Linked DNA regions of Homo sapiens: region 1 is linked to region 2. The links come from fine-mapping of genetic effects on plasma protein levels. A gene starts in region 2. The other region holds a variant in brackets. All regions are shown on one strand. Distances are between the middles of the regions. Region 1 overlaps IL5RA (interleukin 5 receptor subunit alpha). Region 2 holds the start of IL5RA (interleukin 5 receptor subunit alpha).

Region 1 (5,000 bases), 18 kb after region 2:
AGGGGTAAAATTTCCCCCAGTTGAGAATCACTGCACCAGAAAAAGTGAATTTAGCTGCTTAAAAGAGACCATTTAATCCTTCATGAGTTCTGACAGGTTTTGTGAAATTTCTGCCCCTGGGTCCTGTGATGGACTAGTGCCACCCCAGGTGATTTGAGTCCCTTCCCTATAGAATAGCCTCTCTTAGCTGTTCACAGGCAGCACGTTTCCCATCCAGAAGCCCTTCTTCTCCCAGGCTAACATCTCTCTCTCTCTGAATTTCTCACTGTTCTGGCCCATCTCCTGGATGTTCTGCAGCTCGAATATCTCTCAGTGTGCAATTCTCAGCTCTAAAAATTCTATTCGTGGTTTTGTCTGCTCAGTTCTCAATAGAGAAGACACTCTCCCTCATCCCAGATAGTTCTATTAGTGAAACTCATCAGGCGCTCTCACATGGCATTCTTAGTTATGGAGATTCCAGATTTCAATGGTGGGTGGTTATTATGGGCTGTGGGGCCAGACTGCCTGGATTTGGATCCTGGCTCCACCACTGGCTGAGTGACCTTGGACAAGCTGATCATTCCTTTGTGCCTAATCTTCTTATCTGAAACAATGGAGAGGAATCAATACTTCCTGTGCAGTCTTCGTGAGAATTGTGTTACTAATGATAAAGCACTTAGAACAGTGCCTGGCATAAAGGTTTAATAAATACACTACAATATTATTTAGAAGGTATGATTTGGCTGTGACATATCTATATCCAATGGAATATAACTTTGTGTAAAGAATCATAGCCCTTACTAAAGAGGTTATGCAATTCTCTCCAGTAATATATTTCTTAGGTGAACTAAAAATGTCACTTTCATGAAAATAGGCAATAAAAGATGCCGAGGAAGACCTAGGAAACAATGATATTAATATGAAAATGGATATGATCTAGTACAGACCACAGGAATTCATTTTTCTTTTATGATTTTCATTTTATTGAGGCTGATTCCTAGGATTACTAAAATAAATAAGTACTTTCTTGGTTAAGAATTTTCTTCATAGGGTATAGGAGGCTCTGAAGCCAGTGGATCCCACTCCTAGCTTTTCCCTATTAATTGTGAGATCTAAGTCATATTACCTAAGACAAGGACACTCATTAAGAATTCATTTCCCCTCACCTCACCGGACCATAAGACAATCAAGTGAGATCTCAAGGGAAAGGACATTAGAGTCCTAAGTAAAGACAAATTTAGCCCAATCCACTCTTCTTCTTCTTCTTCTTCTTTTTTTTTTTTTGAGACAGATTTCTTGCTCTGTCACCCAGGTTGGAGTGCAGTGGCGCGATCTCGGCTCACTGCAAGCTCCGCCTGCTGGGTTCACGCCATTCTCCTGCCTCAGCCTCCTGAGTAGCTGGGACTACAGGCGCCCACCACCACGCTCAGCTAATTTTTTGTATTTTTAGTAGAGAGGGGGTTTCACCACGTTAGCCAGGATGGTTTCGATCTCCTGACCTCGTGATCCACCCGCCTCGGCCTCCCAAAGTGCTGGGATTACAGGCGTGAGCCCCCACGCCCTGCCCCAATCCATTCTTTTTGATGCAAAAGAAAACTGAAGCTTCCTGCTCCAGCCCCCAAACAAACAAAAACCAAAAGACGCAGTAAACAAAATGAAATTAAAATTAAAAACTGAATCTCAGAAAGGGGAAGTGATTTGTTCAGGGCCACATACCTACTGGGAAGAGGCAAGGCTTGGTGGAAGGTCCAGGGAAATGTTCTCTCAGTGGTCAGGTTTATTCTGGGCCTGGTACAACTTGAGTAGTAAAGGGGGATGGTGGGTGAGTCTTGCAATGAGCTGAGGGGGGGAAGTAATTCAAGCATTCAACTCTATTTGGAGTAGTAATCCTTGTAGTTTCCAGAAAGGGTCTCTTCTTCTTCAGCACTATAAG[A/T]CAAGAGTATTATGGGAGGCCACCGGCTTCCTGTGGCTTGGAGATCAGTTGATTAAGACCTGATGGTAAATATTTGAAAAAAGCGTATCTTAGAAATGCCTTGAGAAGTGTGGGTGGATTGGAATTATCAGCTTTGATCACTGATTCTAAAAAAAAAATCACTGATCTTTCGTTCCCTAACTTAGATCAAATAAATCCTCCACTGAATGTCACAGCAGAGATTGAAGGAACTCGTCTCTCTATCCAATGGGAGAAACCAGTGTCTGCTTTTCCAATCCATTGCTTTGATTATGAAGTAAAAATACACAATACAAGGAATGGATATTTGCAGGTAATTACTCAGATTATTCCAATATTTGATAACAGACATTTGTTTTAGAAACATTTAAAAAATTATCTTCAGTGACTGCAACCAAGTTACAGCTTGGTACTAACAAGGTCAAAGTTAACTTAATCTACCCAGGTATTATAGATATAACCAAATAGATATAAACCAAATCTTACTGGCCTTTTGTTTTGAAAGAACATACTTTTGGTTGAAACTAATACAAAGGATTAGATACAGACTCATTGGTACTAGTGCTGGTTAAAATCTAAAATGATAGACGGGTGGGGTGACTCACGCCTGTAATCCTAGCACTTTGGGAGGCCAATGTGGGTGGATCACCTGAGACCAGGAGTTCAAGACCAGCCTGGCCAACATGGTGAAACCCCATCTCTACTAAAAATACAAAAATCAGCCAACGTGATGGCGCGTGACTATAATCCCAGCTACTCGGGGGCAGGGGCTGAGGCAGGAGAATCACTTCAACCAGGGAGGCGGAGGTTGCAGTAAGCTGAGATGGCGCCACTGCACTCCAGCCTGGGTGACAGAGCAACATTTCATCTAAAAAAACAAAAACAAAAAAACAAAAAACTAAAATAATGCAGCTACTATAAAAACGATATGATGAATTCTCAAAAAATTAGAAATAGAATTCCCATACGATCCAACAATTCCACTGCTGATTACATATACAAAAGAATCGAAAGCAAGGATTCAAAGAGATGTTTGTACACCCATGTCCATAGCAGCATTATTCACAATAGCCAAAAGCTGGAAGCAACCCAAGTGCCCATTAAATGAATGGATAAGCAAAATGCAGCATATACATATAATAGGATATTATCCAGCATTAAAAGGAAGGAGATTCTGACACATGCTACCACATGGAGGAGCCTTGAGGACATTATGCTAAGCAAAATAAGTCAGTCACGAAAGGACAAATACTGTCTGATTCTACTTTTATGAGGTTAAATAGTCAAACTCATAGAAACAGGGTAGGATGGTGGTTACCAGGAATTGGTAGGAGGGTGGAAGGAGAGGTATTGTTTAATGGGTACAGAGTTCCAGTTTTGCAAGATTAAAAGAGTGTTGAACATTGGTGACACAACAATGTGAAACTATTTAATATCACAAAGCTGTACACTTAAAAAGGATTAAGATGGTAAATTTCATTATATGTATTTTACAATTAAAAAAACTCATTAGCACTAATAGACAAAAATTTCAAGGGGAAAGGAACTGAGAAGAAAGCCAATCAACATTTCTTGAGCATCAATTATGTGTCAAGCTTTATTATGTGTTTATTCCATCCTCACATAATTCTATGATGTAATTACCATTCCCATTTTATAGGAAAGTGAGGCAAAAGAGATGAAGTAACTCTCCCACAGTCACAAAGCTAGGAAAAAAAATAGGATTCCAACTTATGTCTTACAGAGAGTAGACAAAGCCAATTCAATTAGATTCAACAAATATTTACAAATTGGCTTCTTTGTGAGAAATAAGACTGTTTCTGCCATGGAGTGACCCAATCTTGTGACATACTTGCCCAGCCTTGGGGTTGCCCTCCCACAGGAAAAGCCAGTACAGCTAGAGATGGGGGTGTGGGCACAGAGCCTGCTCTGCAGAGAGGAATTGAACGGAATCTGTAAGGATGAAGAGAAACTAGTCTGGTGAGAAAACATGAGAAGGACTTTCTTAGCCAGAGCTTCCCAAAATACTTACACTGAAGGACTGTGTGTGCACGTGTGTGTGCGTGTGTTTTTATAATGTCTAATCTACCATAGATTGGTGCTTTTGTCAAATACAATAAAAATGATCTGCTAGAAAAAATTAAATATAGCCAAAGACATGTAAAGTGTCAGTTCACTGATCATGTGTTTGGATATCATGGCAATGTCAAATTGCTATCAAAACTTCCAAATTGCAGTCATAATTTTATCTGTATTTAGCCCATCACAAGCCAGTAATAAATAGTTCCTGACTTGCACCAGCCTAGGAAAAGGAGTAACTTTATGCTTGAGAGAGTATGGTTCTTTCAGTCAAGTGGCAAGTAATTCAGTCTGCCTGGATGCCTGGACATAAGACCAATGCTGAAATCATGACTCTGTATCTGACATTGTGATTTCTCCCAGAGTGGCTCTATAAGATTTTGCTAAAAAATAAAGAAGTGGCTTCTTTTTTAAAAACCATGACTCTGGGCAATGGATGCCACTGAAGAGTTTTACACAATAGAGAAATATGTCTACATTTGCAGAGTAAAAGAAGATTTTTGGTAGCAGCATGAAAACTGGATGTGAGTGGGGAGGGGCGACATGGACATATGATATCAGTTAGCGGCTACTGCAAAGGTCCAAGCAAAAGATAATAAGAGCTAAAATAGGCAATGGTCACAGGGCTGGAGTAAAAAAGGGAGAAACACCTCCGGGGGTATTCAAGATACAGGTGTCAGGAGCACATCTCTGGTACAGGGGACTAGCTGGATGGTGGCGACCATGATCAGTAGAAGGAAAAAGAAGAAGGGCTCATTCATGAGAAAATAGCTTCATTTCAACACTAGACAATCTAGCGTTCATGTGACATTATTTAGTAATGTGACTATAGATTATGGAGAGACAAGGTGAGGGAATAATGCATTCTAGCATAGGCCACTCCAGTCTTTCAGTCTGGAAACATCAGCTGGGCCTGGATAGGAACACCTGGATCTTGACCGTTGATCATTTCGTATATTTTGGTTACAAGATAGCGTTCCACTGAAGGGTG
Region 2 (5,527 bases):
TAGGCAACCATGAATCTATTTTCTATCTCTATAGATTTGCTTATCCTGGACATTTCATATAAGTGGAATCATGCAGTGTGTGATCTTTTGTGACTGACTTCTTTTACTTAGCTTCATGTGTTCAAGGTTCATCCATGTTGTAGTATCAGTGCTTCTTTTGATGGCTGAATAATATTTCACGGCATGGATATACCACATATTCTTTATCCATTCATCAGTTGCTGGACATTTGGGCTGTTTTCACTCTTTGGCCATTATAACTAATTCTTCTGTGAATATTCACATATAAATTTTTATGTAGACACATGATTTTAACTCTCTTGGGTGGGTATTTGCCTAGGAATGCAATTACTCAGTCGTATGGGAACTCCACATTTAACCTTTTGACGAACTGCCAGGCTGTTTTCCAAATTGGCCACCTCACTTTACCTCCCCAGCAACAGTATGTGAGGGTTCCAGTGTTTCCACATCTTCATCAACAGTTGTTATTGTCCTTTTCATTTCAGCCATTGGAGTGGGTGTGAAGAGGTATCTCAGTGTGGTTTTCATTTGCATTTCCAATAGCTAATGATATGGAGCAGATGTTCCTAGGCACCTTTGCTGTTGGTACATCTTCTCTGGAGATATGTCTGTTCAAATTCTTTATCCCATGCTTAAACTGGGTTATTTTACTTTTTTCTTTCTATCTTTCTTTCGTTTTTTGAGAAAGGTCTTGCTCTGTCACCCAGACTGGAGTACAGTGGCACGAACACGACTCACCAGAGCCTCAAACTCCTGGGCTCAAGCTATCCTCCCACCTCAACCTCCCAAAGTGCTGGTATTACAGGCTAAAGTGGGTTATTTTTCTTTTTATTGTTTGGTTTTAAGAGTTTTTGACATATTCTAAATAAAAGTTCCTTGTCAGATATGTCTTTGCAAATATTTTTCCCATGCTGTGGCTTGTCTTTTCACTTCCTTGTATTTTATTTTATTTTATTTCAGACAGAGTCTTGCTCTGTTGACCAGGCTGGAGTGCAGTGGCACGATCTCAGCTCACTGCAACCTTCGCCTCCCGAGTTCAAGCCATTCTCCTGTCTCAGCCTTTGAGTAGCTGGGATTACAGGCACCTGCCACCACACCTGGCTAATTTTTGTGTTTTTTAGTAGAGACAGGGTTTCACCATGCTGGTCAGGCTGGTCTTAAACTCCTGACCTCAGGTGATCTGCCTACCTTGGCTTCCCAAAGTGCTGGGATTAGAGACGTGAGCCACTGCATCCGGTCTTTTTTCACTTTCTTCATGGTATCCTTTGAAGCACAAAAGCTTTTAATTTTGGTGAAATCCAGTTTATCTATTTTTTTCTTTTGTTGTGTCTGCTTTTGTATCTTATTGAAGAAACCATTGGGTAGGTGCGGCGGCTCATGCCTGTAATCCCAGCTCTTTGGGAGGCCAAGGTGGGTGGATCACCTGAGATCAGGAGTTCGAGACCAGCCTGGCCAACATGGCAAAACCCCATCTCTAGTAAAAATATAAAACTTAGCCGGGTGTGGTGGCACACGCCTGTAATCCCAACTTCTCGGGAGGCTGAGGCAGGAGAATCGCATGAATCCAGGAGGCAGGGGAGTTGGCAGTGAGCTGAGATCATACCACTGCACTCCAGCCTAGGCGACAGAGTAAGATTCTGTCTCAAAAAAAAAAAAAAAAAAAAAGAAAGAAACAAAATGAAGGTCATGAAGATTTATGCCTATGTTTTCTTCTAAGAATTTTATAGTTTTGCCTCTTACTTTTAGGTCTTTGATCCCATTGGAATTCATTTTTGTCTATGCTGCGAGGCATTCTTTTGCATGTGGATATGCACCACTTATTGAAAGGCTGATCTTTTCCCCGCTGAATTGTCTTGACACTCTTGTCAAAAATCAATTGACCCTAAATGCGAGAGTTTATTTTTGACTCTCAATTCTATTAAATTGATCTGTATGTCTCTAATATTTTTTAAAATAACTTTTTCTGCCTGCATTTGTACAGAATAAAACGTTTGTAAATATAGAAACACAGAATAAAAGTAAGAGAAACACTAACCCTGCCGTGGTAGAATGAACTGTTGGTCCCATTTCTTCACTCCCCACTAGGAGTTGTCCATGTCCACATCCTTATCATGGCCTTATCATGGTGGAATGTACTTTGGGCTTCGTCCATTTGACTCCGGGCTTGGCCATGCAATTTGCTCAGCCTCTTGAGATGTCAGGGAATGTGACATGAGCAGATGCTTGATGCGTGCTTGTGCAGTTGGTCCTGCTCTCTTGCACTTTTGCTGTCACCATAAAAAGATTATGCCCTGGGTAGCCACTGGTTCCAAATGAATGGCAGATACTTGGAACAAATCTGAACTCACTTTGTGATCTGGATCCCAGCCCAAGATTAAGCAGACCCCAGTCAAAACTCAGACACATGGGCTACAAATACATGCCTATCACAGTTTACCACTGAGGGTTCTGTGGTTGCTTGTTCTGTAGCAATAGCTGACTAATACACCTACCACTTAGAGATAACTATTCCTGTTAGTCTGATCTTCTGACCAAAAATAAGACTGTAAAAAAAAATTACATGTGTGTATACCCTCCTGTTGTTTTTACTTAACATTTTTTCATAATACCCTATGTTATTAAAAGTTCTTGATTGGCTCATACCTGTAATCCCAGCACTTTGGGAGGCCAAGGTGGGAGGATCACAAGCCAGGAGTTTGAGACCACCCTGGCCAACATGGTGAAACCCTCTCCCTACTAAAAATACAAAAATTATCTGGCATGGTGGCACATGCCTGCAATCCCAGCTACTCCGGGGGCTAAGGCACGAGAATCACTTGAACCCAGGAGGCAGAGACTGCAGTGAGCCGAGATCCTGCCACTGCACTCCAGCCTGGGTGACAGGGCACCACCCTGTCTCAAAAGAAAAAAAAAAGTTATTGATAAACATTCCTTTTGACATCCACATCACATATTTCAACCTTGAGCAGTTACATATTTCTCTTCACCATTCCTATAGTACTTTTACTATTTTACTATTGTAAAGGTACAATGAATTTTGCTCTCTTTTGTATAAATCTTGATCTACATTTTTCCATTATTTCCATGGAATCAAGTTCTAGAAGTTGATACCTTTAATAAGCTCCTTTAACCAAAGTTCATGGTAGAGCCACTGAACCATGATTTTCGTTTTATTACTATTCATATTTCTATTTGGCTAAACTCACATTGTTTTGCTTAAAGGATGCAGACACATTTAATTTCACTTTTTAAAAAAACGACTTTTGTGAATTCTTCCAGCATGTTCTATCATACTGTCTTTGGACGTTTACACTTTATTATAAAGAATTAAATTATTGCCATAAAAAACCAAACAGGCCTCGCTCAGTGGCTCACGTCTGTAATCCCAGCACTTTGGGAGGCCGAGGTGGGTGGATCACCTGTCAGGAGTTCAAGACCAGACTGACCAGCGTGGTGAAACCCCATCTCTACTAAAAATACAAAAAAATTAGCTGGGTGTGGTGGCGGGGGCCTGTAATCCCAGCTACTCAGGAGGCTGAGGCAGGAGAATCGGTTGAACCCGGGAGGTGGAGGTTGTGGTGAGCTGAGATCGCGCCATTGCACTCCAGCCTAGGCAACAAGACTGAAATTCCATCTCAAAACAAACAAACAACCCCCCCGCAACCCCCCGCCAGAAAAAAAAAAAGTCCCTGCCTCTCATTTTTTCGTTTGTGCTTATACAGAAACATAGAGACAGTGTTTCTGTATGAGCATGTGTTTGCTTTGTTTGTTTGTTTGTTTTTATTGGCGTAGTTAATTAAAGATCATATACCCAGGAAGGTGGTATGGAAGGAGCAGCCAGATCTAATTTTCTTTATACCCTTCACCGCGCCTAGCATAGTGCATAGGTGCATTCAATGAATATTTGAGTAAATGAATGTAAGAAATATACAGACCATTGGCTGAGTGTGGTGGCTCACACCTGTAATCCCAGAACTTTAAGAGGCCAAGGCGGGTGCATCACTTGAGGTCAGGAATTTGAGACAAGCCTGGCCAACATGGTGAAACCCCATCTCTACCAAAAATACAAAAAATTAGCCAGGCGTGGTGGCGGGTGCCTGTAATCCCAACTACTCGGGAGGCTGAGGCAAGAGAATCGCTTGAACCTGGGAGGCAGAGGTTGCAGTGAGCAGAGATTGCGCCACTGCACTCCAGCCTGGGCGACAGAGTGAGACTTCATCTCAAAAAATATACATATATATATACGGAGAGAGGCCATTAAAGCAGGCTTTTAAGCCAGAAATTACTGTCTTCCCAATGATTAATAAGTATTTTTAAGGTTTCATTAGTGACAAATATGTTACATGTATAAACAGATGGGCAGGACTTAAAAGAGTAGGCCAGATAGTTGATACTATATCTAAACTTTTCTGGGTGCCTCTTAGCAAATAAATGGATCTCTCTCTGTTCCTTGTTTTACTTCCCCTTTCCCCGAGGAAAATCACATTTTTCAGGTCTGACAACAATTTTCAACCTGATAACAATTGCTCCGGTTTCATTTTGGCAACTGCTAAAATGGTCACCTTGGGAACCCCAGGCACACACGCTGACTGTACTTGCACAGCTTCTACACTGAGCCTTTTGGAAATTGCCTCCAGGAAGCCTGTCTCTCATCTCACAAACAGAACCACTGATCCAACCTGGGCCACCATCTTTCTGCATCTGCTCTGTCTGAGACTCTCCCAGTCAGCTCCTAAGGAGACAGGGAATCCTGCATCACTCATCGCTTAGGCTAGACTGAAGGTCTCCTTCCAAAGGCAACTACTTACTACTCTCTGCCGTGGGTCATACAATAAGCACTACTCTTATCTATTCACACGCTAAGCTACTTTTTTAAAGCCAGCTTTGCTAGCTAGCCACCTCGAAATTCCCCAGAAGGAATCAAACAGAAATGGAACAAAGGACAGGAAAAGCCAAGGAGGTTTGCTGAAATTGAAGCATTCTGAAGACAGCTGGGTGGTAAAATGGATGTGACGTGAGGAAGGTGGTCTTGGGTGCACCCACAGACCAACACTGCCATTGTTACAATTTGTGTAGGATGATCTCAGGTGACAGACAGCAGCAATTTATCACACCCAGAAACGCATCCCCCACACATATTTACTTGAGGGTACCAGACCTGCTCACAAAGCAGAGAAGAGCTAAGGCGGTTCTCTAAGGGCAGAGAATTGCTGCTATTGCCTAGTGAGTGGGGAGAGGGTACTCCTCAGGCCTTACTTCCTATCAAATCATGTGTCAGTGTTGCCTAGGAGACAGAGGCACAGTAACTACTGTAGCCAAACAAGGCACATAAACAAAACAGAAATGCAACGCTTTAGAGTACCCACGGAAAACTTGTTTACCTTGTCACCATGAGTAAAAGTTAATTCCCACTCCTGAAGAGAGCAAACCAACTCTGAAAGAGAGTGAAAATGCAGACAAGACAGTTATCAGATAATGGCTATCTGGACGAGAGATTCTTTCGTTT

What was found. PIP is the chance, under the fine-mapping model, that this variant and not a neighbour inherited with it causes the effect. Protein levels are from the aptamer-based SomaScan assay of Sun 2018.
Region 1: its variant is fine-mapped to the plasma level of the IL5RA protein (Sun 2018, PIP 0.95).

The regions. Positions count from the first base shown.
Region 1 is chr3:3,092,542-3,097,541 of GRCh38, reverse strand. It overlaps IL5RA (interleukin 5 receptor subunit alpha), which reads left to right. Exons shown (of 12, transcript NM_175726.4): 8 at 2,098-2,243. Among named protein-coding and RNA genes, the nearest start is that of IL5RA, 15 kb to the left of the region's middle. The variant A/T (reference allele first, on the strand shown) is at 1,913.
Region 2 is chr3:3,110,199-3,115,725 of GRCh38, reverse strand. IL5RA (interleukin 5 receptor subunit alpha) reads left to right here and starts at 5,352. Exons shown (of 12, transcript NM_175726.4): 1 at 5,352-5,527.